4 linked regions of the Homo sapiens genome follow. The protein of the gene in region 3 purifies or fractionates together with the protein of the main gene of each other region. This does not show direct contact. Each region holds a gene or a part of one and is shown on either strand. Other genes may lie near its edges.

Region 1 (7,415 bases), about 84 Mb from region 3:
CCCCCACCCCAGGGACCTTGTGTGTAGAGGCACCAAATTTAGTTAAGAAAAGTACAGGACGCCCAGGCAAATTTGAGTTTCAGATAAACAGAAATTTATTAGTGTAAGTATGTCCCAAATATGGCATGGGACATACTTGTCCCAGAAGATTCTTATCTGACATTCACAGTTATCTGGGCAACCCGTATTTTAGCTGGCAGGCTACTCCGAGGCCCTGCCAGGTTGGGCTAGGCAGGGTGAAGGTGTGGTGGCAGTATTTTTGTGCCAGCTGAGCTGGGTGAAGTGGTGAGCAGGGAGGGAACAGGGCCTGTTTCTTCCCCATGGAGTGCCCTGGCCACGGACAGAGGCCTTCTGTCTGTGCCTGTGAGGGCAGCGGATGGCCTGGGCAAGGGTGGCGGGGTCAGGGTTCCCTGACCTCTGCTTCTCAAGGGTTGTCCATCCCGAGGGCTGGGGAAGGCTTGAAACCTGCTGTGGGATGAGAGGGCCCCAGGGCAACGGCGGGATGTTTCTTCTCTGGGTTGAACATGAAGATGTTAGATAGCATCCAAAACAGGACAGCAGGAATCGGTGCCTGCCAGCCGCCTGCAGCTTGCTCATGTGGGGCTTCTGCTTTTCAGTGGACAGGCCATTACCATTTTGCCTTGGGTGTTTCTGTTTTTCATTGCAAGAGGTTAACACCCCATCTTTTGGATTTTTTTTGTTTAATTTTTTTTTTTTTTTTTTTTTTGAGATGGAGTCTTGCTCTGTGGCCCAAGCTGGAGTGCAGAGGCGCGATTTCGGCTCACTGCAACCTCCGCCTCCCCGGCCCAAGCGATTTCCTGCCTCAGCCTCCCAAGTAGCTGGGACTAGCCAGGCGCCACCAGGCCTGGTTAAGTTTTACATTTTTAGTAGAGACGGCGTTTCTCCATGTTGGTCAGGCTGGTCTGGAACTCCTGACCTCAAGTGATCCACCCGCTTCGGCCTCCGAAAGTGCTGGGATTACAGGCGTGAGCTCATGCCCGGCCTTTTTGTTTTAATTTTAATAAAAGTTGAGGCTGGGTGACAGAGTGAGACTCCGTATCAAAAAAAAAAAATTTTAATGTAGTTTGAAAGGATGCCAGAAAGCCCCTGCCCCTGCAGGGCCGCGGGCTCTGCCCCGGTCTCTGGCGCAGCCTGGGCGGAAGCACCCTGTCCGTGCTGCTGGTCTTCACTGGGCTTGGCATGTGCCATCATCTGCGCTCTGGCGCGCTGTTAGAAATGTTGCTTTTGTATTTTTATTCTAGTGTTTTTTTGAAGTTTAAACTTTATTGCTCTATATACTTGCCAGTGGGGAAAAAAGTAAACTTAAAAAAAATGTCAGATTTGTAGAGGGCTGCAGCCAGCGCCGCCCTACCCTGGAGTGCTGAGTGCACCGTGTCCCTAGGCACTTGCTGCTCCATGGGCCGACTTTTGGGGTCCCACCCATCTTTTCCAAGAAGGCAGGGAAGAGCCCTGGAGACACGGCCGTCCTGTGAGCACCAGGAGCGGGAGTGGTAGAAGTGGCAGGGGCCCAGGTGTGATGTCCTGGAGGGGATGGCATGGGGCTGTCCCACTTGGCCTGTGAGGATCGGCCTCAGCACTGCGCCATTGGCAGCCCTGGCTCACTCTCCAGGCAGGATGGGCCACTGAGCTTCTCCTGCCTCAGCCACTGAGCACTCCTGGCTTGCTCCACCTTTGTTTTTTTGAGACGGAGTCTCGCTCTGTCCCCCAGGCTGGAGTGCAGTAGCGCAATCTGGGCTCACTGCAAGTCCGCCTCCCGGGTTCACACCATTCTCCTGCCTCAGCCTCCCAAGTAGCTGGGACTACAGGCGCCCGCCACCATGCCTGGCTAATGTTTTGTAATTTTTTTTTTTTTGTAGAGACGGGGTTTCACTGTGTTAGCCAGTATGGTCTCGATCTCCTGACCTTGTGACCCACCCGCCTCAGCCTCTCAAAGTATTGGGATTACAGGCGTGAGCCACTGCGTCTGGCTTTTTTTTTTGTTTTTGAGACAGTCTCACTCTGTCACCCAGGCTGGAGTGCAGTGGCACAATCGCGGCTCACTGCAACCTCCGCCTCCTGGGTTCTAGTGATTTGCCTGCCTCAGCCCCCTGAGTAGCTGGGATTACAGGTGTGCACCACCACACCTGGCTAGTTTTTGTGTTTTTAGTAGAGACAGGGTTTCACCATCTAGGCCAGGCTGGTCTCGAACTCCTGACCTCAAGTGATCCACCCGCCTCGGCCTCCCAAAGTGCTGGGATTACAGGCGTGAGCCACGGTGCCTGGCCCCATATTGTTCTGAGTGGAGAATTTGATCGTTAAGCTCTCAGAATAATAAAAAAGTAGCTGTCAGTGAGAGATGTTGGAATATATGGTCCAATGAAGCACATCCCTCGCGCCCGACCCGCCCTGGCAGTGCCGTTCCCGCCCGTGTGTGTGGGTTCTGGGTGTCAAAACTGCTGCAGTGGCCCTGCAGGCATCCTACCTAGAGGTGGGTCCCCAGCTGCGCATCTGGACGCTGGTCAGCAGGTGAGGCTGGGATGCCAGAGGAGGTGCCGTGTGCCTGGCCAGGTACCCGGGAGGCGGCTTGGGGGAGCACTGGCTGCAGGGCCTCCTTCCTCCTCCTGCTGAACTTGGAGTGCTCTTGCCAGATTATGGGCTGAGTCCTGCTAGGGAGGGTGGCCCCCCTTCCCCAGGAGGAGCCCACCCTGAGACCTGGTTGGGGGGCAGCTTAGACCCTACCTTAGACTCCAGCAGGCTGTCTTGGGAGCATGTAATTATGTTTTTTTTGAGACAGGGTCTCCTGTTGCCCAGGCTGGAGTGCAGTGGCACCATCACAGCTACTGCAGCCTCCACCCCACAGGCTCAGGCGATCCTCCCATCTCAGCTTCCTGAGTAGCTGAGACCACAGGTGCACACCACCATACCCAGCTAATTTTAAGATTTTTTATAGAGGCGGAGTCTCACTATGTTGCCCAGGCTGGTCTCGAACTCCCGTCCTCAAGCGATCCTCTTGCCTTGGGCTCCCAAAGTGCCGCTGGGTTTGCAAGGCTGTGAACTACCATGCCCGGCAGAGCATTTAATATTCTCCAAATGTCTTTCCTCGTGTGCTACCTGGGCTCACTGCTTTCTGGGGCTCTCGTGTTGCTGGTGTCTCCACCCCCACCCCCACCCCAGCTGGCCTGCTCCATTCCTGTCCCGGTGGGCTCATGTCTGAGTGTGCGGACTGGGGGATCTTGGTGGCGATGGAGCCAAGCCCAGGGAGGCTGGGGCCACCCTCATAGTGCAAGGCCACCCAGCACCTCGCCCCTATACCCCACCCGCCCCACCAATGTGCCCCCGGCACCCCCGAGCCCAGGCCCCAAGGCTTGCTTCTATGGGCTTTGCACCACCCTCTAGGCTGCTCCCGCCTGGGCCATGCAGCGCACCTGAGGGGTCTGAGGTGACCGCTCCTCAGAGCCGCCCGGCAGCCTCCCTGGGGCGGGCCTCAGCACTGCAGCCCCGTGATCCGGCCTGGCGTGGGCTTTGCTGCTTTCTCTGCCCGGTGGCCTGAGGAGCTCGAGTGCCCGCCTGCCCCCAGAGCCCTTTCACGGTCAGGGCCTGAGCTCTGTGGGTGCCATTAGGAGGAGGGTCTGCAGATCTGTGCGGTTGGGGGACCCCTGGGGCATGGAGGGGACCACGCGTCCCTTCCCGTCCGTGCCCTGCCAGGCTGTCCTCACAGCAGCGTCGTCACAGGGGAGGAAACCAGGGCAGCGGCAGCGGCTCCTGGTACCAAGCATACCTTAAAAATGAGCCCATGGATGTTGCAGTGAGCCGAGATCACGCCACTGCACTCCAGCCTGGGTGACAGAGCGAGACTTCGTCTCACAAAAAAAAAAAAAAAAAAAAAGAGCCTCAAGGCCTGTGCAGTTGGTCAGCGGTGGAGTCAGGTATGGGGCACACCTGATTCTGCCCTGGCTCATCCCCTGCCTTCAGAGGACAGCAAGGGCGCAGCGCACGTGGGGGCTGGCCCTGAGGTGTGGCGTTCTCTGGGCTGGGCTAGGGCAGTTCTGAGGGAGGGGCGTGTTCTGTCCCATTCCTCCAGGAGACACAGTGCCTGGGCCATCTGGCCACTTGCATGAGGGAACGTCTGTCTGCATCCCCTGGGGGCCGCTGTCCCCATCCCTTGACTGCCGGATGCACCTCGGATGCTGGGGCTCTGGTCTCCGATCCTTCTTGGACTTTGTGGGGACAGCAACGGAGGAGGATGACCCCAAGGATGGGCCGGGCGCGAGGCTTGCAGCAGTGCCCAGGTTTTGCAGATAAAAATACAGGACACCCCTGCAGCATTTGGGACGTTGTCACATGGAGACCCGGCTCCTGGAGCAGGGGTGCTGGGGGCTTTCCTGACCACTGTTGCTGTTTCTCTTGACTCTGTTCCCAAAAGGGAAAAGACAAAGTTCCTCTCTGTGCTCCCTGGTCTCCTGTCTCTGACCATGGCAGACCTGGCTGTGGGTGAGCTCAGGAGAGTGGGCTGTGCCCTGGAGGGTCCCGGACAGGCAGGGACCACGGGCACCGCCCTGCCGCACAGCTCTTGTTGCTCAATGATCTTGGGGGTTGTGTCTGTTCTCCCCCAATTCTTCTGTGGCCCCATCCCCTATTTGTTAAAACTTACGTGTAACCCCAAAATTCACACTTATGTCACTTTCCCAGTCATTTGCGGGCACGCACAGGCTGCTAAAAGCCCAAGTTGCGTGGTGCTTGGGTGCCTGCTGGGGTGAGCGAGGCACCCTGCCCTCTGCCACTGCTCCCATGTTGGAAGCAAATTGTCCTTTCTCCATCTACTGAGGGCCATGCTTCTTGCATTTGGGGGCTCTTGGTGATTTTGCTTTTTAGATGCCCCTGGGGGAGGTGCCGCAGTGCTGTTGAGTGTCCCTGGACACAGGCAGGCTGGGATGGGTCCCATGGAGAGAACGTGTGTTGGACAGGCTCTGCCCCACGTGAGTTCAGTGTCGGAGAACAATAATAATTATAAAGTTCTTTGACAGAAACGTAAAATAAGGCTGTTGCGTATTGATTGGTTGCTGAAAATGTTGTGACCAGAGGCTCGTAGGAACCTGACCCTGTATTTCCTGTAGGAACAGAGGTACGGTGTTCAGTATTAGTGGTGACTTTATGGAACGTAATTACTGCAAACAATGAGAATTGACTCTGGGTGCGTGTATATTTTTTTAACTTAAAGTAAGGTTTAGGCCGGGCATGGTGGCTCACACCTGTAATCCCAACACTTTGGGAGGCTGAGGTGGGCAGATCACTTGAGCTCAGGAGTTTGAGACCAACCTGACCACACAGCAAAACCCCATCTCTACTAAAAATACAAAAAAAGCCAGGCGTGGTGGTGCGTGCCTGTAATCCTAGCTACTTGGGAGGCCGAGGCATGAGAATCACTTGCGTGCAGGACGCAGAGGTTGCAGTGAGTGGAGATCGCACCACTGTACCCCAGCCTGGGCAACAGAGTGAGACTCTCTCAAAAAAAAAAAAAAAAAAAGTTAGGTTTATTGAGATACACGTTTCACATGGCAAACCCACTTATGTGTAGGGGCCTGTGGTTTTCCACTCATGCACAGCTGTGTGGTCGCTGCAGCTCTTCCACACCTGACATGCTTCTCTTGTGACCTTCTGTAGTCAGCCCCCTCTTCTCCCCCAGCTCCCAGCAACACTGACCTATTTTCTGTTCCTGCCGTTTTGCCTTGTCCAGAATGTGGTAGAAGTGGAATTGCACAGCATGTGGGCTTTTGAGTCTGGCGTCTTTCTTTTTTTTTGAGATAAGGTCTCAGTCTGTCACCCAGGTTGGAGTGCAGTGGTACAGCCATGACTCACTGCAGCCTCCACCTCCCAGGCTCAAGTGATCCTTCCACCTCAGCCTCCTGAACAGCCGGGACCACAGGTGTGCACCACCACACCCAGCTAAGTTTTTCGTTATGTTGTCTAGGCTGGTCTCGAACTCCTGGGCTCAAGCGATCCTCCCACTTCGGACTCCCATAGTGCTGAGGTAACAGGAGTGAGCCACCATGCCCAGCCTTATAGTAATTCTTGAAATCAAGTAGTAGGAATCCTTGAACTTTGTTCCTCATTTTCAAAATTGTTTAGCCTGTTCTGGTTACTTGGCTTTCCCTTACAGAGTTTAGAATTGGCTTGTTAATTTCTACAGAAACCAAAAAGAAGTGTTTCTTTTTTTTTTTTCTTTTTTTGAGACAACATCTTGCTCTGTTGCCCAGGCTGGAGTGCAGTGGTATGATCTTGGCTCACTGTATGTAGCCTCAGTCTCTTGGGCTCAAGTGATCCTCCCCACTTCAGCCTCCCGAGTAGCTAGGACTACAGGCATACGCCACCATGCCTGGCTAGTTTTATTTATTTTTGTAGAGATGGGGTCTCACTATGTTGCCCACACTAGTCTCAAACCCCTGGCCTCAAGTGATCCTCCTGCCTTGACTCCCAAAATGCTGGGATTACAGGCATGAGCCATTGTGCCCAGCCTCACCTTGCACTTTTATGTGGTAGAAATGGCTTCTTTCCTTGAACTTCATGGGCCAACTTCTGCTAGCTTCAGATTTTTCTTCTGCAGCCTCCTCACCTCCCTCAGCCTTCGTAGAACTGAAGGGAGTTAGGGCCTCGCTCAGGCTGGGGCTCTGGCTTCGGGGAATGTGTCCGCTTTGATTTCCCATCCCGGCACTTCAGCTTTCTCTCTATCAGTACTAAGGCCGTTCAGCTGTCTTATCAGGCTTGTGTTCACTGGAGCAGCACTTTTTGTTTTTTGGAGATGAAGTCTTGCTCTGTCGCCCAGGCTGGAGTGCGGTGGCACGATCTCGGCTCGCTGCAACCTCCGCCTCCCGGGTTCAAGCGATTCTCCTGCCTCAGCCTCCCAAGTGGCTGGGACTACAGGCACCCACCACCACACCCGGCTAATTTTTTTTTTTTTTTTTGAGACAGAGTCTCCCTCTGTCACCCAGGCTGGAGTGCAGTGGCACGATCTCGGCTCACTGCAAGCTCCGCCTCCCAGGTTCACGCCATTCTCTTGCCTCAGCCTCCCGAGTAGCTGGGACTACAGGTGCCCGCCACTATGCCCGGCTAATTTTTTGTATTTTTTTAGTAGAGACGGGGTTTCACCATGTTAGCCAGGATGGCCTCAATCTCCTGACCTTGTGATCCACCTGCCTCAGCCTCCCGAAGTGCTGGGATTACAGACGTGAGCCACTGCGCCCGGCCTTTTTTTTTTTTTTTTTTTTTGGTGACCAAGTCTCGCTCTGTCATTCAGGCTGGAGTGCAGTGGTGCGATCTTGGCTCACTGCCACCTCCAGCTCTCGGGTTCAAGTGATTCTCCCACCTCAGCCTCCCGAGTAGCTGGGATTACAGGCACACACCACCATGCCTGGCTAATT
Region 2 (7,415 bases), on a different chromosome or scaffold from region 3:
AATTATGGGGGAAGACCCTGCCCAGCCCCGCAAGTATAAGAAGAAGAAGAAGGAGCTACAGGGTGATGGGCCTCCCAGTTCTCCCACTAATGATGTGAGTCCTCTCAGTTGTCATTTCTTGTTTCTGGAGTGATGGTGATCGAAGATTTTCCAAGGGCTACTGATGGAACTTCCCAGAGATTCAGTAACCTCTGTGAACAGTAGCTCTTCCTTCAGCATCCAGTCTTGCCCCAAGAGTGGCTAAGAATTTTGGCCTGAAAGGGCAGGAGCCACTAGAGATAGCCCACTGGTGGCTCTGTCACCAGCTGGCCCTTCCCCATGGTGCTGCTGGATATTGTCTTAAGGAATGAGGGGGAGGGGCTGAAGACTAGATGTGAGAACTTTTGTAAACTCAGGCCATAGTAGAGGGAATTGTAATCCAACTTGGTATCCATGCCAGGGAGGAAGAGACTAAGACTGGAGGAGCCGCCGACTATTTCCTTGAGCTTTCTGACTTCTTGTCTCTATAGCCTACCGTGAAATATGAGACTCAGCCACGGTTTATCACAGCCACTGGAGGCACCCTGCACATGTATCAGTTGGAAGGGCTGAACTGGCTACGCTTCTCCTGGGCCCAGGGCACTGACACCATTCTAGCTGATGAGATGGGGCTAGGCAAGACCATACAAACCATCGTCTTCCTCTACTCACTCTACAAGGAGGTGCTGGATTCTAGGACCTTGAAGGGGACCGCCTGGACTGGGGAAGTGGGGAGGGGGAAGATAAAGGGGTGTAGCTGGCAGAGGACTAGGGTATACGGCCTCTAGCCTAGACTTATGCTGCCCCCATTCTTGACTCCCAGGGCCACACAAAAGGTCCCTTCCTGGTGAGTGCCCCACTCTCTACCATCATTAACTGGGAGCGGGAGTTCCAGATGTGGGCACCCAAATTCTATGTGGTGACATACACGGGTGACAAGGACAGCCGGGCCATCATTCGTGAGAATGAATTCTCCTTTGAGGACAATGCCATCAAAGGGGGCAAGAAAGCTTTTAAGATGAAGGTAAGACCCTCTACCTCATATCCTCTGAGACCCTCAAAGCTGTCACTTCTTTTTCTCAGCCAGGAATTCAGTTTCTCTATTCCCCTCCTCACCTTTCTCCTCTTCCTCCACCTGTCCTCCTGTCTCTGCACTACCATCCTAGAGATATGGCAGGTACTCCCAGGGGCATACATGGATCTGTCGGTACTGGAAATGTGGGCAGAGGTTTAGGAGCCATGGTCTGTAATCCCTGCTTGGAGAACAGAGTAATGGCTCCTGTTGGGAGCCACAGTCAGGACAAGGTGTCTGGTTCTGGAGGTGTAGGTGCATGGTTGTCAGGTGGCAGCTGAATGGGCAATAATTATGTTGGCAGAGGGAGGCACAGGTGAAGTTCCATGTTCTCCTGACATCGTATGAGCTGATCACCATTGATCAGGCAGCACTTGGTTCCATCCGCTGGGCCTGTCTTGTGGTAGATGAGGCCCATCGACTCAAGAACAACCAGTCCAAGGTGAGTGAGGTTTCCAGACCTAAAAAACTTGAAGTTGTGGACTTCCCACTTGCCTTGGTCCTAAAAAACAACAAAAATTCTGGGGATTTTCTGTAGTCTGGGAGGACGTCCAGGTTGGAAGAGGGAGAGGGCCAGAGATTTGGGGCCTCTGATCCTGAGTGAAATGGGAGCTGGGGCAGGGAAAGGCTGATGCTGTGGGTCGGTCACTTGTCACTAATAAGCCCATTTTCCTGCCTTGCCTTGCCCCATCTTTTAGTTTTTCAGGGTTCTCAATGGTTACAAGATAGATCATAAGTTGCTGCTGACAGGAACCCCATTGCAGAATAATCTGGAGGAGCTCTTCCATCTCCTGAACTTCCTCACCCCAGAGAGATTTAAGTAAGTGGTTCCCTAAGGGTAGTTGGCAGAGATGAGAGGTGGAGCAGATAAAATGAGCTGGTAGAGGATTAATCTGAGGTGGTAAGTCTGAGATCAGGGGCAAGGAACTTGCCGACCTGTTAATTTTCTTCTCTTCTGGCTCTTAGCAACTTGGAGGGCTTCCTGGAGGAGTTTGCTGACATATCCAAAGAGGACCAGATCAAGAAACTGCATGATTTGCTGGGGCCACACATGCTGCGGAGACTCAAGGCAGATGTCTTTAAGAACATGCCAGCCAAGACAGAGCTCATCGTTCGGGTGGAGCTAAGCCCCATGCAGAAGTAAGATGCAAGACGAGCTGCCTGGAGTAGGGCTTGGGGATTGATGGGAGCGTTCCAAGTGCAATATCATAATTGCTTCCTTTATTTATGTTTCTTTTACACCCCTTTCCTGGCCTTTAGGAAATACTACAAATACATCCTGACTCGAAATTTTGAGGCCTTGAATTCACGAGGTGGTGGGAACCAGGTGTCGCTGCTTAATATCATGATGGATCTTAAGAAGTGCTGCAACCATCCATACCTTTTTCCCGTGGCTGCTATGGTAGATACACAGAGCAGGGAGCTGATCGAACGCCCATTCTCAGAAAACATGGGTGGGGAGTAGTGGGGAGGTGGGTATTGAGCCACAGGGGTGGAGCTGGGCTGGAAGGCCACGGACTGGGTGTCTGAGAACAGGAGGAATTGGGAACATGTGGAAGCTGGATCCGGGCATCTGGCCTTCTAGGTGTGGCAAGAATATGGGGGCATGTTTCCAACTGACCCCCTCCTCCTCCTCTCTCCTCCCTTTTCAGGAGTCCCCCAAACTCCCCAGTGGGGCTTATGAGGGTGGGGCACTTATTAAGTCGTCTGGGAAGCTCATGCTGCTCCAGAAGATGCTGCGAAAGCTGAAGGAGCAAGGACACCGAGTGCTCATCTTCTCGCAGGTGACCTGTGCCCTTAGCTGTCTTTACATCTGCTTCCTCTTCCCTCTCCTCATCCTCCAGACTTTAATTTCTTACGGTCTTCCTGTGGCTGCTCTGGTGTGACAAATGAGGAGATTCCTCCTGTAAGAGTTTTTTTTTTTTTTTTTTTTTTTGAGACAGAGTTTCGCTCTTATTGCCCAGGCTGGAGTGCAGTGGCACGATCTCGGCTCACTGCAACCTCTGCTTCCTGGGTTCAAGTGATTCTCCTGCCTCAGCCTCCCAAGTAGCTGGGATTACAGGCGTGCACCACCATGCCTAGCTAATTTTTGTATTTTTAGTAGAGACGGGATTTCACCATGTTGGTCAGGATGGTCTCCATCACCTGACCTCAGGTGATCTGCCCGCCTCGGTCTCCCAAAGTGCTGGGATTACTGTATAGCAAGTTCATTCTTGGCCTCTGATGCCTGTTCTTAAGGTTGCTGGAAGTTGAGGTCCAGCTCTAGTTCCTTTTCAGCTGCATGAGGGAAGGGGGAGGGTGAGCCATCTGCCTCCTTAGGGACTGGTATTATTTCTTCATCTTATTGGCAGGTGAGGGTGAAGGGCACAGACCCTTTGGAAATGTGATGAAAGCTCTGGGTCTACTCACCAGAAAACTGCACATACAATGACACAATTTTGTACGGATTTTCAGGGGGTTCCTGGATTTCCCTGAAACCTTTTCATGGGTCTCAGAGAACCTCTGCCTTAGGAGAAACAATCTTAAATCAAGAGAGTGTGACAAGAGGGCCAGACGTGGTGGCTCACACCTGTAATCCCAGCACTTTGGGAGGCCGAGGCAGGAAGATCACTTGAGGTCAGGAGTTTCAAGACCAGCCTGGCCAACATGGTGAAACCCTGTCTCTACTTAAAATACAAAAATTAGCTGGGCGTGGTGGCGCACACCTGTAGTCCCAGCTACTAGGGAGGCTGAGGCGGTAGGATCACTTGAACCCAGGAGTGGAGGTTGCAGTGAGCAGAGATGGCACCACTGCACTCCAGCTAGGGCAACAGAATGAGACTCCATCTCAAAAAAAAATAAAAATAAATAAAAATAAGAAAAGAGAGTGTGACAAGAAGGTGGAATAATGAGGAGCTTAAGACAGGGCAGGGGTTCAGGTGTAAAGATTAGGGTTGAGTTTGTGTAAAGGAGTAGTTAGAATAAGCAAGCATCCCACCACCTCATTATTGCAGACTCCATCCTTTTCTCTTGCTCTAGATGACCAAAATGTTAGACTTGCTTGAGGACTTCTTAGACTATGAAGGCTACAAGTATGAGCGCATCGATGGTGGTATCACGGGTGCCCTGAGGCAGGAGGCCATCGATCGGTTTAATGGTGAGGGAGATACACTGGTCCCTGGTGGGTGTGGGAGGCCTGAGAAACCTGTGATAGGTCCCTGGGATGGGAGGGGGACTGGCTTGGGGGACATTGGAAACTTAGGCTTTGAGTTGGGGGCATGGTTGTTTGTCATCAGAGAACATCTAGGAGCAGGTGGACAGAACTACCGGGTACAAGAAAAACCTGATCCAACTCTCACCTCCTAGCTCCTGGGGCCCAACAATTCTGCTTCCTCCTGTCCACCCGAGCTGGGGGCCTGGGCATCAATCTGGCCACTGCTGACACTGTCATCATCTTTGATTCTGACTGGAACCCCCATAATGACATCCAGGTGGGAACTCGCATCCTAGAACCCCTGCACCATTTAGCAAGGAGATGTGGGTTCATGGAGGAGGGTGTCATGTTCCGGGGTCAGAAATAAATCTCTTCTGGGAGGAGAGAAGGCCCTTCTTCAGCAGCCTTCTTTCCTGAGGCAGCTCTATGGGCAGCTTCTCCCCGGCCACTCCCCTGACCCACCCGCCACTTTCTCTTGCCCCTGCAGGCCTTTAGCCGGGCTCATCGGATTGGCCAGGCCAACAAAGTGATGATTTACCGGTTTGTGACTCGCGCGTCAGTGGAAGAGCGAATCACACAAGTGGCCAAGAGAAAGATGATGCTGACACACCTGGTTGTGCGGCCTGGGCTGGGCTCCAAGGCAGGCTCCATGTCCAAGCAGGAGCTTGACGACATTCTCAAATTTGGCACTGAAGAGCTATTCAAGGATGAAAACGAGGGTGAGAACCTTTTCTGCAGCTCTGTGAAAGCAGGCCCCTGCTCTCTCAGGAGTACTTATCAGCCCCCTGGGGAGAGAAAAACAACTCTTCTCTGCAGCCTTTGAAGGAAGGAGAGCCTTCTTTTAGTAGCCCTTGGAGGAAGGTTGGCCTCTTTCTTTGCCTGTAGGGTTAAAACAAACAAAACAAAAACCTTTCAACATTGGCTCCCGGGGAAAAAGCCTTCTCTAGGGCTCCTGTGAAAAGGACGCAGAGTAGAAGCTTTCCCATCAGCCTTTCTAAACTTTGGAACCCAAAGTTCCCGTTTGTTTTCCCTCTCACCAGGGGAGAACAAGGAGGAGGACAGCAGTGTGATTCATTATGACAATGAGGCCATCGCTCGGCTGTTGGACCGGAACCAGGATGCAACTGAGGACACTGACGTGCAGAACATGAATGAGTATCTCAGCTCCTTCAAGGTGGCACAGTACGTCGTGCGGGAAGAAGACAAGGTGAGAGGCTTTGGGGGCCAGACATTATCTATCCCAGGCCATCTCCAAAAGGCAGTATCCTTTACTCAGCCTTGAAGTAGGAGGGTCTGTCCCCCTTAAAACAGTAGTGGACCTCAAACAACTTCTTCGTCTAATAGGTGAGACTGGACTTCAGAGAGAAACGTAGGCACAGACAGTACTGGTAAACACAGAAGGGTACCTTCTGAGACAGTGCAGGAGAAACACTGTCAGAGGGATTAGAGGAGAGATTTAGAAAACATGAGGAGAGCACATTGCAGGTAAGAGATGGCATGGAACATGCGCAATGTCCAGAAAATGTATGCAGAGCCACGAAGCTGCAGGAGTGGGGAGACCGGATTGGGCTGACGCAGCAGAGTAGGGATTTCCTTGCAGTGGAAGGATTAGCAAAGAAGGAGACCCCCAGTGTTCATTCATTCTGTTGCCCTTCAGATTGAGGAAATTGAGCGAGAGATCATCAAGCAGGAGGAGAATGTGGACCCTGACTACTGGGAGAAGCTGCTGAGGCATCACTATGAGCAACAGCAGGAAGACCTAGCCCGGAATCTAGGCAAGGGCAAGCGGGTTCGCAAGCAAGTTAACTACAATGATGCTGCTCAGGAAGACCAAGGTGAGGACTGCCCCAGATGCAGGCAGTAAAGGGGGGAAGTGATGATGAGTAGGGACTTGAAGGCTGGAGCTATTTAGAGGGAAAGAGAGAAGCCTAGAAGTCAGAGCCTTCCTCTGCTAAAAGGGAAAGACATAAGGTAGAGTCATTAGGAACTACCCAGAGGCCAGGTGGGTTTGCAGGAGATTTAAACTCTTCGGTGGTTGCACAGGCATCCTGTGGACACCCAGGGCCATTGCTTAGAGTAGGTTTTGCAGGAGAAGCAGAGGGGCCCAGAGACTGAAGGTGGGCGGTGAATGGAGATGGTGTAGGATATGCGGCTCCCAAGTCAGACTTTGGGCAGTGATCTGGTGTTCCCAGAAGGACCAAGGCCAGAATAAAGGTAGACAAGTCTCGGCAGGGAGGAATCCAGCCAGAAAGGGCCTCAGCATGGGCATATCCCGAGAGCCCTCCCTGACCACTGGGCCCTTTCCACCCCCACAGACAACCAGTCAGAGTACTCGGTGGGTTCAGAGGAGGAGGATGAAGACTTCGATGAACGTCCTGAAGGTGGCATCTGTGTTCCTGACTCTACCTCACCTCTTCCCGTTTTATTTTCCAGTTTGCTTTAAGCCCACTGTTTTTATACAAGTAAAAAAGTCTTCGTGTGTGTGTGGAAAAACTCGATTGCAGATGAGCAGAAAGGAAGAAATATTCATAGTCTCTCTGCTAGTAAACTTCGGTGTGTGTGACCACATAGGCTAGATCCAGAAAGGCCATATCATTTTCCATTCCCACTGGTAATCTGGGCCTTTGTCAGATATCAGCTGTTAATTTTAAAATATGACTGGTTCTTTTAGACTTAGTGGGTTAGTAGTTCTGAAGTGCTTGGGAGAGAATTGGGAGCACCTCAAACGTGACAGGAATGTTCCTGTGTTGTGTATCTTGTGGGAATGGGGTGCTAAGGAGGACTGAGGCTTAGAGGAGGTGGTGGCTCAGCTAACTGATGTCATCCCCACCCTCAGGGCGTAGACAGTCAAAGAGGCAGCTCCGGAATGAGAAAGATAAGCCACTGCCTCCACTGCTGGCCCGAGTCGGGGGCAACATTGAGGTGAGAGCTGGGCCCAGTGTTCCTGAGTTCTCCAAGAGGGCATGAGGGCAGGAGGTTGGAAGTTGGTGCCTGGATCACTGAAGGTAGAAAGGACAAGACCTAAGAACCCTAGACATTTGTCGCCATTGCCTCCTTGCTCCCACCCTCAGGTGCTGGGCTTCAACACCCGTCAGCGGAAGGCTTTCCTCAATGCTGTGATGCGCTGGGGGA
Region 3 (7,659 bases):
AACCTCTTCCAACTCAGAGAAGCCCTGAAAACCAGAGACAGGTGTGAGCAAATTGTAGAGGTGAGAAAGGAGAAACCCCAGACAGAAACAACTGCTTCCTCCTGCCCAATTTTCTATCCTGTTTCCCATAGTCCTGCCAATATTTAGGCAGCTTCCTAATGCTTTCCCACTCTTTTAACCTCAATCATTTGGATTCCCAGTTTCCTCTTACCCACCATTAGGGGAGAAATGTTCAAAGCCAGAGAAAGCCAATCAGTTTCATTCTAGGACCTCTTCTTTTCTCTCCTGCCCCATTATTTTCCCTTAAGTGCCACTGACCAGGATAGGCAGTGGAAAAATTAGTTGGCAGCTAGCTATTCGTGCTTTCTTCCCTGCCCCCATACCTCCTGCAGCTCTTGATAGTGCAGACTCTGGCTCCTGCAGCATCCTGGTTTCCTCTGGCTCAGCAAGAATAGGGCGTGCACTGAGACCAGCACTCCCCCTAGGGTGAAGGCCTCAGCACTGAGTTCCAGCACCAGCAAGCCAGCATGCTGCAGGTAGACAGGGCTGAGAATGCAGGGACCCCGCACCTGTTTGCCCCTGCCCTTTTCCCTTCCCACCTCCTCTTGCCTCCTTATCCTCCCACCTTCTCCTTCATTGACCAGTACCTGGGAGGAGGCAGTTGGGGCAGGCCCCAAGGCTGTCTTCATCACCTCGACCACCACCACTATGAAACCCAAGATCAAGTTGAAGGTGTTGAATATCATCATGGCCCGCACCTGCCAGTGAGCCAGCTCAGCCCTGCCCAGCCTAGGGGAGTCATTCCAACCTCAATCCCCACTTGCAGCCTAGCTGAAGACAAAACTCAGCTTCTGCTTCTCAGCCTCCAAACAGGGCCATAAGCCCTCTTAACTTTTTTGCTTTCCTCCTCAGTGATTGAGGCCAGTCAGTGGTGACAGCTGAGAGAATGAGTCAACACTTAGCCACTTACTTCCTAGGCTGAGGGTTGTAGGTGTCTGTTTTAGGGAGTGGGAGGACAGTGCTGCGTTTTCTTCCCTCTCACCTTCCAAAGGCGGGGTGCTCTGCGAAGCTCCAGAGTGACAGTCCCAGTGAGGAGACCCTGAATGGTGAGAAGGGCAAGTGTTGAGCTCTGGTCCCGTTAGGAAGGGGCCCTGGGACCTTCCACCCTCCCTTGTGGTGGGTCTTACTGAGGCTCCAGGCCCAAGAGGCAGCGCTGTGGCCATGTGACAATCAGAGTTCAGGCAGGCGACTGAGACAGCAAGGGGCACCACAACCACTGCCAGCCATAGCTGGCTCACCTGGGGGTAAGGGTAGGGTAATTGGGGAGGAACTGTCAGGGATTCCCTCCCTTCTCGTAACTCCTACCTCTTTAGAGATCAGGAAATGGGATTGAATGCAGGGTGGAGGAAAGCAGTCAACCCAGAGCAAGGACGTGATCATTAAAAATTAAGTATCATTTAATTTTTTCTGCCTCATATTGTAGTTTAGTTACTTACCTGTATGTTTTCCCCCACAAGATGGAAGCTACTTGGGAGATTAAGGGTCTTGCCTTGTTTATTTCTATGTTTTCCTCTACCCTCCTCCCATTCAGAACCTAGCTCAGTTTCTGGCACATGGTAGGTGCTCACTTAACATGGATGGATGGATGGATGGAATTGAATTGGGTAGAAGTGGACATGCTGAGACCTGGGATGGGGTAGCCTGGCCTCACCGCTAGCACCAAGAGGTGCCCACTCTGCCTGTGCCTTGCCCAGTGTTGTAGCTTTTCCAGACGAAGGCTGTGTCTCTCCTGCTCTTGCTCACCAGCTCTATCTTCCATGGCTCCTTTGCCCACAAGAATTAGGTGCTTCCTAGGCTGGGAAAAATGCGTTATAGGTTCTGTCTATTAGGAGACAGGACATGCAACAACGTATCTTTCAGCTACACCTCTGCCCACTCCCAATATCCAGGGATTTGAGGTCCAGGTCCTCACACCTACCTAGTCTGAAGCAGCTACTCCAAAGGGATGGGACCCAGCTGGGTCCTAGGTCTCCTAAGGGGCTTGATAGCTCAGAGCAGACGACAAACTTGTCCTGGCAGAGGAAGGCTGTCAGGGATGGGGTGTGGTGGGGCAAAGGTTTCTATGAAGGCCTAAGGATCTAGGGAGTGGCCCTGGGTAGATACCGGCCTCAGTTCACTCCACAAGATGTCTAGCCCGACCTCACTCTGTTCCCATTTCTCATTACCCTCATTTCTGCCCATCCTGGGTTCCTTTTCTGGTTTCACTTACCTCATCCCCATGGACACTATCACTCTGGACCTCAATTCCCCCTCATTTCCATATGATCTTACTCCTTTCTTTGGCTTCCTCCTCAAATTATGTGCCCTTCCCTAGAGATCCTACTTTCTGTCTGGATTGGTCCCCTGTCATTACTACTTGCAGCTTTGCCCCCAGACCAGGTAAGGTTGAATTCCAGGGGCTTTCTTGCCTCTCACTTTCTGGACAGTCTCCCTTCCTTCTTTCTTGAAGGTTTTACTCTGAACTGAACACTGACTCAATGGATGGGGGGGACCCTGTTTATGGTGGGGATTGTTTTTGATTCAATGATAACCTGCAACTGGACATTATCTATCTATCTATCTATCTATCTCATGGTCCTCAAATAGTGAGTCTTGGGAAGGATGCTATTGCAACAATTAATATTTTTGAGAGAGAAGGTGCCTCATAGCCAGACAGACCTGAGCTGGAATCTTAGCTCTGCTGCTTCTCCATCTGTGTGATCTTGGATACATTATTATTATTATTATTATTATATTATTGAGACAGGGGCTCACTGTCACCCAGGCTGGAGTGCAGTGGCATGATCATGGCTCACTGTAGCCAACACCTTCTGGGCACAAATAATCATCCTGCCTCAGTCTCCCAAGTAGCTGGGATCACAGGCACATGCCACCATGCCTGGCTAATTTTTAAATTTTTTGTAGAGACAGGGTCGTCTCACAATGTTGCCTAAGCTGGTCTCAAACTCCTGGGCTCAAGCCATCCTCCCTGCTTGGCCTCCCAAACTGCTGGGATTACAGGTGTGGGCCACTGTGTCTGTCCTGATAGATATGTTTTTCTACCTATTCGCACCTCAGTTTATTCACTGATAAAAGGGGGCTAACAATATGACTGTGAAGAGTTGTTGATTCAGGGTGGGTGTTTAATAACTATTAGTGGTGCTGATGAGGTCACACCGATAAGTCTGATGCCCATACACTAAAAGTGTTATTCAGAAGGAAGCTGGGGACACATTTCTACAGTCGGAAGCAGAACCAGCTGGGCCCAAATATACTCTATAGATCAAAACAAATCCCAGATCTACCTAGGTGCCCTTGGCAAGTTGCTTAATCTCTCTGTTCCCTTATCTATAAAAGGAAGTTAATAATACCAGTCTCAAGGGGTTGCTTTCAGCATGGAAGAGAGCTTAGCCCAGTACCTGGTACACAAGTGCTCAATGTTAGTGGCTATGATCATCATCACTATTATTATTTCTTGTTGTTGACGATAAGAGGAGACTGCGCCAGAAGACTCTAGAAGTTAGTACGAGGAGGGAGGCAGGGTCCTGGGAGGCAAGTGATCTTTTGTAAGCCACTCCTGCCCCATCAGTGCTGTGCCAACATCGGCGGGTCATTGTATCTACTCTTTTCTTTCCCGGGGAGTGGGAGTCACGTTTTAAAGAGATCCAGAAAACTGCTGTGTGTCTACTCCTCCTCAATTCCCACGTGCATTGATTTTATTTGGTGGCGATGTGAGATGTTGGGCTTGCACTGAGGATCCCCGAGCCTGCAGGCCACTGGGGAAACAGACTTCCTGAAGCCTCATTTTTCTTACTTGTAAATGGGGGCTAATTTAATTATAGAGGGTTATTGGAAAGATTATATACTATTAGATAGGTGAACAGGCATTCAGTAAATATTGACTAAATCTGAGTATACTACTTACCAGTTTGTAGTCTAGACTACAATCGCCTGGAAGGAAGGTACCACTTCTTTCTCATCCCTCACAGCGCTGAGCCCAGTGCCTGGCACTTAGTAAGCACTCAGTAAATATTTGTTGTATTGAAGAGCCATTAAAGTGACTTGAGGAATGGAAAATAGAATTCGAGAGGAAGGCGCAGGAATTGTTTATCAAGAACGGAAAGGACCGAAGAGTAACTTTAATAATGTTTCTTATACGGCCGACATTAACTATCTCTATAATCGCCCCTCCTCCTCCCCCAAAAGAGAGACAGAAATTGTAAGGGAGAGGCTTTGAGATAAAACCCCAGGAAGAACTTCCCGAGTCTGTGCATGTTGGGGCAGAAAGAGCGGCAGAGCCAACTCCTTCCCTGGTATGTCCGGGTTTAGGGAGGGAGGGGCAGTGCTGCTTGGAGGCTGGGGGAAGGACGAGATGACCTTTCAAAATCTCTTCCAGTCTCCTGTTGGAATCCTCTGTGCGCCCCACCCCCGCTCCCTCCCTTCCTCCCTCCCTCCGACAGCGCCCCCCGTCTCCAAACCGCCCGCACCCCGCCCCTGGCGGCCGCCTCTCGCGGCTCCCGGGGTCCCCAGCTCCCTGTCCCCGGAGCCAGAGCCCGGCTCCCGCGCGGCTCCCAGCCCCGCCGCGCCGCCCCCCGCATGCTAATGGCCGGGCCGCCTCCCGCCGCACACAATGCGGGCCAGGGCCGGGGGCGGGGGACCGGGGAGGGGGCGGGGGCCGGGCCGGGGGCGGGGGGGCCGGGGCCCGGCGCATCTCCCCCGGCCCCACGTAACGCTGACGCCCGCGCCGCCGGCCCGCCGCCCGCCGCCGCCGCCGCCGCCGCCGCCCGCTCCGCCGCCGCCCGCCCGGGGCTCGTGAGTAGCCGCTCCCCCGACTCCCGGGCCCCCCCGTCCGCCACCCGGCCCCCGCCCCCGGCCCCCTCCCCCCTCCCGGAGGGGGGGCCCGCTCAGCGCGCCCGGCTCGGAGCAGGTGCAGGGGGCGGGGGCGGGGGAGGGGCGCCGGCTCGGCCCCAAGCAAACTTCGCCCAGAGCTCCTGGGGGGGCGGGGTGGGGGTGGCGGCCTCGGAAGCCTGGAGAGCTGGGGGGCCCCAAGGGAGGGGGGGCCAGGTGGAAGAGCTGGGGGAGCAGACACCAAAGGGAAGGGCCAACGGGGGGGATGTGGCGGGGGAGGTGGCGGGTGTCTTTGTAGGGGCCCGAAGGCAGGGCGCGAGGGACCTGGGGGTGAGGGGCGGCAGAGCCGCGAGCCTGAGTGGATGTGCACCCCCCAACCCCCGGCCCAGGTAGGGCTGGTGGGGGAGGGGGAAGGAGCCCAAACTCTCTGGAAGCACGGGGTGGCGGGGGAGGGGAAAGGATGGGGGGTGCTTCCCTCTTTGCGTCCCAAACAAAGTGTCACAAAGAGCTCGGCCCGCGGCAGCAGCGGAGGCGGCTGTAACTCAGCTTTTGTTCTCCTGGCCGGGGGTAGCTGAGCCTTGGCCTCCCTATCTCCCAACCCTGCCCCCCATCATCCTTCTGGCTTATCTTCCTGGGGAGGGGTCTGGGGTGCTGCTGGAAAAACCTCTCCGGCAGGATAGCAGGTCCTACCCTACTTAGCAATCTATTTCTGGGAGGGGGATTTTCCCAGAGGCTCCCTTGATCGCCCCTACCTCCCAGTCTGAGGACCGAGGCTCACGTGGGTGCTAAGACTGACTTTTCTAGGGTCAGCTCCACTTAAAGGGACTTAGGGCTGGCTACATGCCCCTCTTTCCCAAACCCAGGTCTTCCAGAACTTTCAAAATCAAAATCGGGGTTGCGTTAGGACATGCCTCTGGGATAAGATTCCCCATGGTGGGATGGCAGCAGGTGAGCAGGTGTGCCTTCCTCTCGCCTCCTGCTGTACCTTTGAAGTCCATGGCTGAGGTTCCATGTCCCTAACTCAGGAGAGTGAGGACAGAGGGAAGGAGGCTTTACCAAGATCTCAGTCTAAAAAGGCTGGTGAGCTGCAGAGTGGAGCGGGTTAGGAGGAGCTATCTGAGCAGTGAGGTTCAGAGGGCCATGGAGAGGAGACCATAAAAGTGAACTACTGGTGTGTCTGTGTGATCAAGGTAGTCTTTTGAACGTAGACCGCCCTAGAAGCTCCCTTTCCTTTTAACCCCATCTAGTGCAGTGGTAATCATAATTGTTAGCAGATTTGGGAGGTCTAGGATTCTCAAGAGGGAAAACCATCGTGTTAGAGGTGACCAGAGGCAGTTACAACTGGACCCCAGAAGTCCTGAACCCTTGCTCCTTACACTTTGACCCTAAAAACTTTTGAATCACAAGACTTGAGGGACAGTCTTTGTGGTCCATTTAGCAAATACTTCTATGTACCTGTCCTTGTTGTTTCTAAGTCTTTTCACCAACCATTCCATCCTTCTCTACTGAGTAAGGTTTAGTGGTCCACACCCACTTCCCTACCAGCTGCCCCAGCATGTAAGGATAATTGGCCTACTGCTTTTGAAAGGTTTCTGATATCTATCCCTGGCCCCGCATCCTTATAGAATCCAAATAAGGGCAAGATAACCCCTGATTCCCAGTGGGGGTGGAAAGTAGGTCAGTGCTGCTGTCTGGCCAAGTCTCGAGGATGGTGTTTAAGGCCTGACTATAGAAAACTCTGTGATTATTGTCCAGGGGCAATATATGCATGACCTCGGTTCCAAGGCAGTTCATAGTATCCCAGTCCCTGTCAGTTCTTTCCCCTACTGAGAAAAAAATCATGGGATCAGGTGTCTGGAACCTGGTTTGATATGGAGATGATTCAGATCTTCATTGGGCCTAAGAAGGTATCTCAGTGAGTTTTGTTGATTTTAGGCCACCTTCTGGGGAAACTTTCCGTGCTGGGGAATTCAGCTTCAGTTTGGGCCTTCTTGTATATCACTCTATTTCTGTTCTGGAAACTGCTATGTGCAAAGTGGTTTATTGTTGTTTTGTTTTGGGATAGGAAGCTTTGCCCTTTTCTGACTCTTCTTGCCTCAGATATGAGGCCAGCTTCCTAAGAGATTTTGCTTGCTATCCTACAGACAGTTTTAGGGGCCCTAGAATCTTCTCAGAATGAGAGTATGTGCCCATAGGTTAGTCAGCTATGACCATGCAGTATTCCCAGCCCCCCCGCCCCACGCCTCCACCATCTGCTTCCTCTGAATATACCAGATTGGCTGTACACCAGGATGTTCCGGGAATCCCCAGGAGAGCAACAGAATGTGATGGACCCAAATATGATGCCTCAGTAACTCATTCCAGGATGTACAAACTGTAACTGTCAGGATGCTCCTTATAGCTAATTAAAATTCTTCTAGTTACATCTATTTTCTATTAGCTCTTTCTATTTTCAGTGACATCTAAAAGGCCAAAATAATCCCTCTGGTACCACTGGGTTTTTTTCTATGGTTTTCAGATAGGAACGAAAAAAAAATGCTCTAGCTTTTCTGTGTTGTATCTGCGATGCTAAAATGGCAAACAGCCCCTCTAGCACCTCATAGCTCTATCTATGGTACTGAGGTGGCCCAAGTGGCTTCTGTGGTAGCCCACTGCACTCTCCATGGTACTGAAGGGATGACCATTTGTTTTAACATCTCTCTGGGGTCCAAAAGAGTCCTGTGACTTAGAATCACAAACTTTTTTCGAGCAGGAAGGGACTAACACTATAAA
Region 4 (6,450 bases), on a different chromosome or scaffold from region 3:
CCGTATTTATGGAATGACAAAATAAATAAAGCCCAAACCCATCGGTCTCTGTGACTTTTTGCTCCTCTCATTTCCTCAGGGTCAGGGCTGGGCCAGGGTGACACGGGAGGGGAGGAAAAGGCTGCCAGCAGCAGGGCCTGGGGCATCCCCCAAACCGGAGCCTGCAGCCAAGGGCAGGTGGGTTGGAAAGGGCCCGTGGAGAGAGAGCGGGGACAGAGAATGGGGACAGGGTGGTCAGAAGACCTGTCCCCCATCTCTCCCAAGCGATTCAGCCAAGGGAGGGTGCGTGCCTCCCCTGCCGCCCCCAACACACACATTCTCTTTCACCAACTCTGAGGGCCCAAAGCTGCTTGCTGGGAGGCTGCTGTCCCTCTGGGGACCTGGCTGGCTGCTGTTCTCATAAGGACAGAGGTCCAGGCCTGGGGAAGCTCTCATGGTATGTGTTTGGGGTACAGGTGAGAGGGGCCTCACCCCAGCACACCCCTGTTTCGGGCTCCCCTCCTTCCCAGTGAGCCCCTGCACCCGTGAAATGACCATCCCAGGCAAGAGAAGGCTTCCGGACACGCCCCCACCCCCCACCACTCCTCCCTGGCCCCAGCCCCCACCCCCATTCTAAATCTTGAATCTTAAAAAGAAAAAGCCTCTGATTAAATCCTTTCCCAAAGGATTTATTAAAACACAGAAAACCAAAACATACACACAGAGTACAAAGTAAAGGTGATTGTGTTGGCTACAGCCTCTGTCCAGCCTCCCGTGGGCGAAGACCAGACAAGCCACGGCTCACAGGGGAGCCTGGCTTCCAAAGCTGGACCCGCCCCCGCCGGGGCCACCCTGGCTGGGACTCCTGGCGCGCCTTGCACCCAGCCCAGGGCCCTCCCTTTGCCAGCCTGGGGCTGTGCCTGGGGAAAGGGGTCGGCCCCCTCTTAGCTGGGCCTGGGCCGGTGGAGTCTGCTCCCTCCACACCCCTGAACTCAGACCCCACGGGCCAGTGGGGACCCTCCCTTCCTCTCCAGGGGTGCTTGGGCTCCAATCGCTGCTTGAGGAGTTCAGGACACACACACACACCCAACGGGCCCTTTCTGGGTTATCGCACCTAAAAAAATACTTTGTTTAAAAAAAAAATCTGAAAATTAAAGAAAAAAAAAACACAACGCCAGTGAGTTTGGGCTGATGCACCACAACCTGTAAACTTTCAGACACAGAAAACAGGACAGGAACCAGCTGCCGAGGCCGAGGCGGGCCTTGCACAGAAGAGACTTGGGGGAGGGGCCGAGGCCAGGTCACCAAGACGGTGAGGGCAGAGGGGCGTGCCAGCCTCGGCCCCCACCCACGCCCTGTCCCCTGCCCACAGACCCTGACGCACACTGGAGGCTCCAAGTGACCGACACTTGACCAAGTCCATCTGGCTTCTGGCTCCCATGTACCCGAGCCCACTCTCCACTCCACCTCCTTGGGCCTCAAGTGTCCTGGGATGACAGGAGTGAGGGCTGCAGGTGTCACCGGGCCAAGGCTTGGTCAGCTCCTGACCTCGGCAGGGGAGCACCCGGGGGACTCTGGGAAGGCAGCCCCCAAAAGCAGGAGGACTTCAATCATAGGGGGCAGGGAAAGTCCAGCCTGCCCCTGGGGGAAGCCAAGTTTGCAAAAAACGCAGGAGCTTCGGAAGGTGGCTTTCACGGGGGACGCTGCTTCTGCCTCAGGCGTGTATGAGAGGGCCCTGCAGACGTGCTCACTCCACCCCGAGTCACCTGAGCCCATGGGGCAATGCCTTCCAAGACCTTGGCTCAAACATGGCTCTGCAGAAGCCCTACTCAGCACTGGCTTAAAGTGGCTGGAAATTTCCAATCGCAGACTGGCACTTTGGGCTCGCGTTCATGCCCGAGGACCCTGATTCTACCAGCAGCAAAAACCAAACCCAGCCCAAAGACGCCAAACATACGGACACCACCATCACCACTTTTGGCAGAGATGACTGACAAACCAAGAAGGACATTCTCAGATCTTTTCTCCTCTCCCAAACTGGTCAGCCCCAAACCCGCTCTGACTCTAGTAGCCCACCCCTCCCGGGCCCCGGGGTGCTGGCCACGGACAGCACCACCCCTTCTGGACCAGGCAGTGCAGGGGGCCCAGGCCCAAAGGAGCCCTGGCCAGGCTTTCCTGGGTGCCCGAGTCTAACCAGGCAGAGGAGAAGGGAGCCCTGGCGAGGCCTGGGAGGGAAGCAGAGAGGAAGGGACAGAGCAAGCCTGCCTGAGAGGAAGGCGCACAGGGGAGGGACCATCAGCCCTTGGGGTGGAGACACAGACCCCTGCCCTGACCGCCACAGGCCTCCAGTCCTGCTGCTCGGGACCTATCTGCTGTGGGCCAAGGAAGGTGGGCACTGCTCCCAACGAGGGCCAACCCCAGTGCTTGCCACTGCTTGTTTGGGGACGAGGGCACGGGAGTGAGCTTCTGACCCGAGCCAGGACCCTTTGCCAGGAGGCACCGCAGAGCACACAACACGCATGTGGATGAACCATAACATGTGAGCCCGCTGACAATCATCTCCACTCCAGGGTGCTCCCCACTACGCCCACGTGCAGTGTCAGGGTCGGGCTGGCCTTGCAGACCTGGATCCAGACTGGAGTGTGGGAATGCGCCAAGAGGAAGGACTTGTAGGTCCCGCCCTCCGGGGTTCAGAGACAGCCTCATTATGAGTGAGGCATATAGGGCTTAGGGAGGGCCAGGCAATCGCTCCAGTGTCTGCAACACAAGCTGGTGAATCCTGACCCAGCCCTGGCCCCCTCAGTCCCAGGCAGGCCCTCTCCAAGGAGCTGAGCCCCAGCCCGTGTGCACCTCCACCCCAGGCCCAGCTGGGTTTTTCACGCAGCCCTTTCCTAACATTCCCAGGATTCTGCACCCCAAGGCACCTTCCCTGGGAAGGTCCCAGTACAAGACTCAGAAACGCCTTCCAGGTCGACCTGGGGCCAGGAGAAGGATCACACACAAACAGGCCTAGGGAGGGCCTGACCTGCTCCCCATCTCCGTCCCCAACTTGGAGGGGCAGGGTCCGGGGGAGTGGGTGGGATTCCAACAACCCACATGTGGGAAGATGGTTTTGGGATGTCAGGGCGCTCCTGGCAGGAAACAAGGCAGCAAGCCCTTGGTGCTGCGGCTGGGAGGGGTCTGCAGAGGGCACTGGGTCCAGTCCCCCTCCAGGCAGAACTCTCCCCACGCCTTCCAAGAGTGCAGCCTCAGGCAAAAAGCCCCCGGGAAGGCCTTTCCAGGGACAGGGGAATGGGACAAGTCCAGGCCCCCAGGGGCAGCCCGGTTCCACCTCCGGAGGTGGGCAGGGTAGGCATCCCAGGGCACAGGGCAGGGCCAGGGTCTCCTGGGCCAGCTCAGGGCCCATGACCCTCCTTGCTGGGGCGCAGCTATCACTGCCCTTAACCACACCTCTGGCAGAAGGCAAACCCAACGCAGCAGTGGCTCCGAGGCAAGTGCTGCCCCCCCCCCAGCCCACCCTCCCTGGGATCATACGCTTCTGCCTGCTGTGAAGAGCCGGGGCCACAGGCCCCCCACTGGTAACAGAGTCCAGGGCCTTCAAGATGCGCTGGGCCGGGGACAGACACCTGCTGGCAGAGGATCCACCTCCCCACAAGGAGAGAGCAAACACCTGGCGGCCTCCAGCCTTGGCAGGAAGGAGGGGAAATGTCAGCCAGGGTCTCACCATAGGGCTGGACAGCGGCTCCCCAAACCTGCCCTGTCTGGTGCTGGGAGGCTCCAAGCGGGCAGGGGGCCAAATCAGAAGGGGCTGTCACACAGGTGCAGACAGGTCAGGTAGGGGACACTGAGGGCTCCTAGGGCACCGGGCGCCATGTCCTCCCCAGCTGGGCTGAGTCCACAGGGCAGTGCCAGGACTACCTTGGGTCTGGAACCCATCGGTAAAGAGACATCAGTGCTGCAGGTTCGAATCTTCCATACGTCATCCAACTTTTATCAAGACAAACGTGTTCAAGTCTTCAATAGGAAAGTGCAAAAGATGTACAAATAAATGAAATCTCTTCTAAGAAGTCGTCTGGAAAAGGTGGCGAGGGGGCACGTCCGGCGTGGTTGTGGGGGCAACGCTGTGTGGAAGAACACTTGAATTATGATGAGGTGGCACTTCTGGGCTCTGGCCCAGCTGAGCTGGGCCTCGTCCTCCATGTGATGGCATTACTAGGTTTCCCTTTTTGTCCCAAGGTGGCGCTGGCTCCTAAAAAGGTGGCAGCTTTTCTCTCCCATGTGGGTCGGGCAGGTGGCCCGGCAGGCGTGGCTGCAAAACGCAAATCAGTGGGTTAAGCAGGTGGGCAGTTATAGGGGGCATCAGGGTGGCACCCAACAGCCTGTAGCTGCTTCTCCACCTATCACAACCAACTATGATCGGGGTGCCCCCCAGCCATGACCTCCCAGCCACAGGCTGCCGGGCCAGGCCATGAGCTACACCCAGAGTGCCGAGAGCACCCAGGAAGCAGCAGTGGGCAGGGGCAGCCAGCCAGGAAGCCCCTCTGGAGCCTCCTCCAGCAAGACACGGTTCCCACAGGGACAGACACAGCGTAGTGGAGGCTGGTGGCCCCAGAGAAGACCAGAATGAACTGGCAGTTTCTCTGAAATAAGCCCCCTCTCCTGGCCAATAGCCCCCACAAAACCCTCAGCCACCCTCCTGGTCCTGGGCAGGAAGTGAGGGTGTAAGACAAGATGTGATGTCTGCCACCAGCAGGACAGCAGGGGCAGGACAGGGCTCCAGGCGGGGGCAGCAGTCTCTGACTTCCGCTGGGAACATGTGTGCAAATGAGAACACATGTGCACACACAGGAGCTCACCCAAGTCCACCGACCCCTTCATGTCCTGCCACCCCAGCCTCCCAGTGGACAGACACGCTGGCCACAAGGTGGTCCCAGGGCCAAGGGGGCAAGGTAGAGGGGCTCCAGGCAGGTGGGTGGCTCTCAAAGCCGCCGGAGGCAGTAAAAGCTCCAGGACTTAGGGACGGGAGTCAAGTGCAGGGGCAGGGCTGACTGTGGCCAGGCCTGGTTTGCCAGCAATGGGGTGGCGGGGAGGAACACAGCACCCAGCAGCCCTCACCTCAGCTGGAAATGAGCGCTGCAACACAGGGAAGTCTCGAGGACGGCTAGATATCTGTCAAAAAAAGAGGAGAGCCGGGCTTGCCTGACGTTGGCAGCAGCAGGCAGGCCGGGCCCGGCGGGCACCCGTGTGCATGCTGCCCGGAGCGGACGGGCACCTACCGGTCACATAGGGCCCCAGGGGCATCTGGTTGTAGTTGACAATCCCTCCCGGTCCAGGGCCCCGGAAGTTGGGCCCAAAGTTGTTGCTGTACATCTGGGAGGAGCCGAAAGCGCCCTGGAGGCAAGGACTCAGCTTCACAGGTGGTCTCAGGCCCCCCACCCAGCCTCCACCCAGGGGCACGCCAGGGGGCTCGGGCCGGGGCACACAGGCCGAGCCTGACCTGCTGGATGGTGGGGTCCCCGGCGCGGTTGGTCAGGCGGCTCAGGATGCTGCGCTCCGACATCTGCAGCCGGGCGGCCACCGGGGGGATGCGGGACAGCATGGATGGCAGCCGGGTCACGTCGGCCTTCATGTCGCTCAGCAGCTCCTCCAGCTGGTTCAGGACTGTGGTGGGAGGCGGAGGGATGGTAGGATGCAGGGATGGAGGGGTGGAGGGATGGAGGAGTGGAAGGATGGAGGGATGGAGGGGTGGAGGGGTGGAGGGGTGGAGCAGTGGAAGGATGGAGGGATGGAAGGATGGAGGGATGGAGGGGTGGAGGGGTGGAGGGATGGAGGAGAGGAGGGGTGGAGGGGTGGAAGGATGGAGGGGTGGAAGGATGGAGGGATGATGGAGGGATGATGGAGGGATAATGGAGGGAAGATGGAGGGATGGAGGAATGATGGAGCGATGGAAGGATGATGGAGGGGTGGAAGGACGGACGAATGGAGGGGTGGAAGGACGGAGGGATGGAGGGATAATGTAGGGATAATGGAGCGAAGATGGAGGGATGGAGGGAAGGTGGAGGGATGGGGGAAGATGGAGGGATGGAGGGATGATGGAGGGATGGAGGGATGATGGAGGGATGGAGGGATAATGAAGGGATGATGGAGAGATGGAGGGATGATGGTGGGATGGCGGAGTGGAGAGATGGAGGGATGATGAAAGGATGATGGTTGGATGTTGGAGGGATGGAGGGATAATGAAGGAATGATGGAGAGATGGAGGGATGATGGAGGAATGGAGGGGTGGAGAAATGGAGGGATGGAGGGATGATGGAGGAATGAAGGGATGAGGGAGGGATAATGGAGGGATGGAGGGATGATGAAGGGATGATGGATAGATGGAGGGACGATGGAGGGATGGAGCGGTGGAGAGATGGAGGGATGGAGGGATAATGAAGGGATGATGGAGAGATAAAGGGATGTAGGGATGAT

The links.
Region 1: the proteins of ZNF219 (region 3) and MTA1 purify together in Homo sapiens (affinity purification with mass spectrometry; 3 studies listed by BioGRID and IntAct, with this or other methods). This does not show direct contact.
Region 2: the proteins of ZNF219 (region 3) and CHD3 purify together in Homo sapiens (affinity purification with mass spectrometry; 5 studies listed by BioGRID and IntAct, with this or other methods). This does not show direct contact.
Region 4: the proteins of ZNF219 (region 3) and CHD5 purify together in Homo sapiens (affinity purification with mass spectrometry; 4 studies listed by BioGRID and IntAct, with this or other methods). This does not show direct contact.

The regions. Positions count from the first base shown.
Region 1 is NC_000014.9:105,422,511-105,429,925, forward strand, and holds part of MTA1 (metastasis-associated protein MTA1), read left to right. Parts: intron 1-7,415. UniProt on the Homo sapiens protein: Transcriptional coregulator which can act as both a transcriptional corepressor and coactivator. Acts as a component of the histone deacetylase NuRD complex which participates in the remodeling of chromatin.
Region 2 is NC_000017.11:7,898,502-7,905,916, forward strand, and holds part of CHD3 (chromodomain-helicase-DNA-binding protein 3), read left to right. Parts: coding exon 1-94; intron 95-509; coding exon 510-701; intron 702-841; coding exon 842-1,042; intron 1,043-1,394; coding exon 1,395-1,532; intron 1,533-1,788; coding exon 1,789-1,910; intron 1,911-2,056; coding exon 2,057-2,230; intron 2,231-2,350; coding exon 2,351-2,492; intron 2,493-2,742; coding exon 2,743-2,874; intron 2,875-4,108; coding exon 4,109-4,226; intron 4,227-4,365; coding exon of another isoform or gene 4,366-4,376; exon of another isoform or gene 4,377-4,435; coding exon 4,436-4,560; intron 4,561-4,770; coding exon 4,771-5,002; intron 5,003-5,323; coding exon 5,324-5,490; intron 5,491-5,940; coding exon 5,941-6,118; intron 6,119-6,598; coding exon 6,599-6,664; intron 6,665-7,119; coding exon 7,120-7,205; intron 7,206-7,354; coding exon 7,355-7,415.
Region 3 is NC_000014.9:21,095,504-21,103,162, reverse strand, and holds the start of ZNF219 (zinc finger protein 219), read left to right. Parts: upstream 1-4,507; 5' UTR 4,508-4,851; intron 4,852-7,659. Other genes in the region: TMEM253 (transmembrane protein 253), read right to left, coding at 1-24, 384-530, 648-758, 1,043-1,099, 1,188-1,298, 1,712-1,819. UniProt on the Homo sapiens protein: Transcriptional regulator. Recognizes and binds 2 copies of the core DNA sequence motif 5'-GGGGG-3'. Binds to the HMGN1 promoter and may repress HMGN1 expression. Regulates SNCA expression in primary cortical neurons.
Region 4 is NC_000001.11:6,101,140-6,107,589, forward strand, and holds the end of CHD5 (chromodomain-helicase-DNA-binding protein 5), read right to left. Parts: intron 5,641-6,450; coding exon 5,477-5,640; intron 5,371-5,476; coding exon 5,256-5,370; intron 5,149-5,255; coding exon 5,141-5,148; 3' UTR 5,095-5,140; intron 4,289-5,094; 3' UTR 648-4,288; downstream 1-647. UniProt on the Homo sapiens protein: ATP-dependent chromatin-remodeling factor that binds DNA through histones and regulates gene transcription. May specifically recognize and bind trimethylated 'Lys-27' (H3K27me3) and non-methylated 'Lys-4' of histone H3.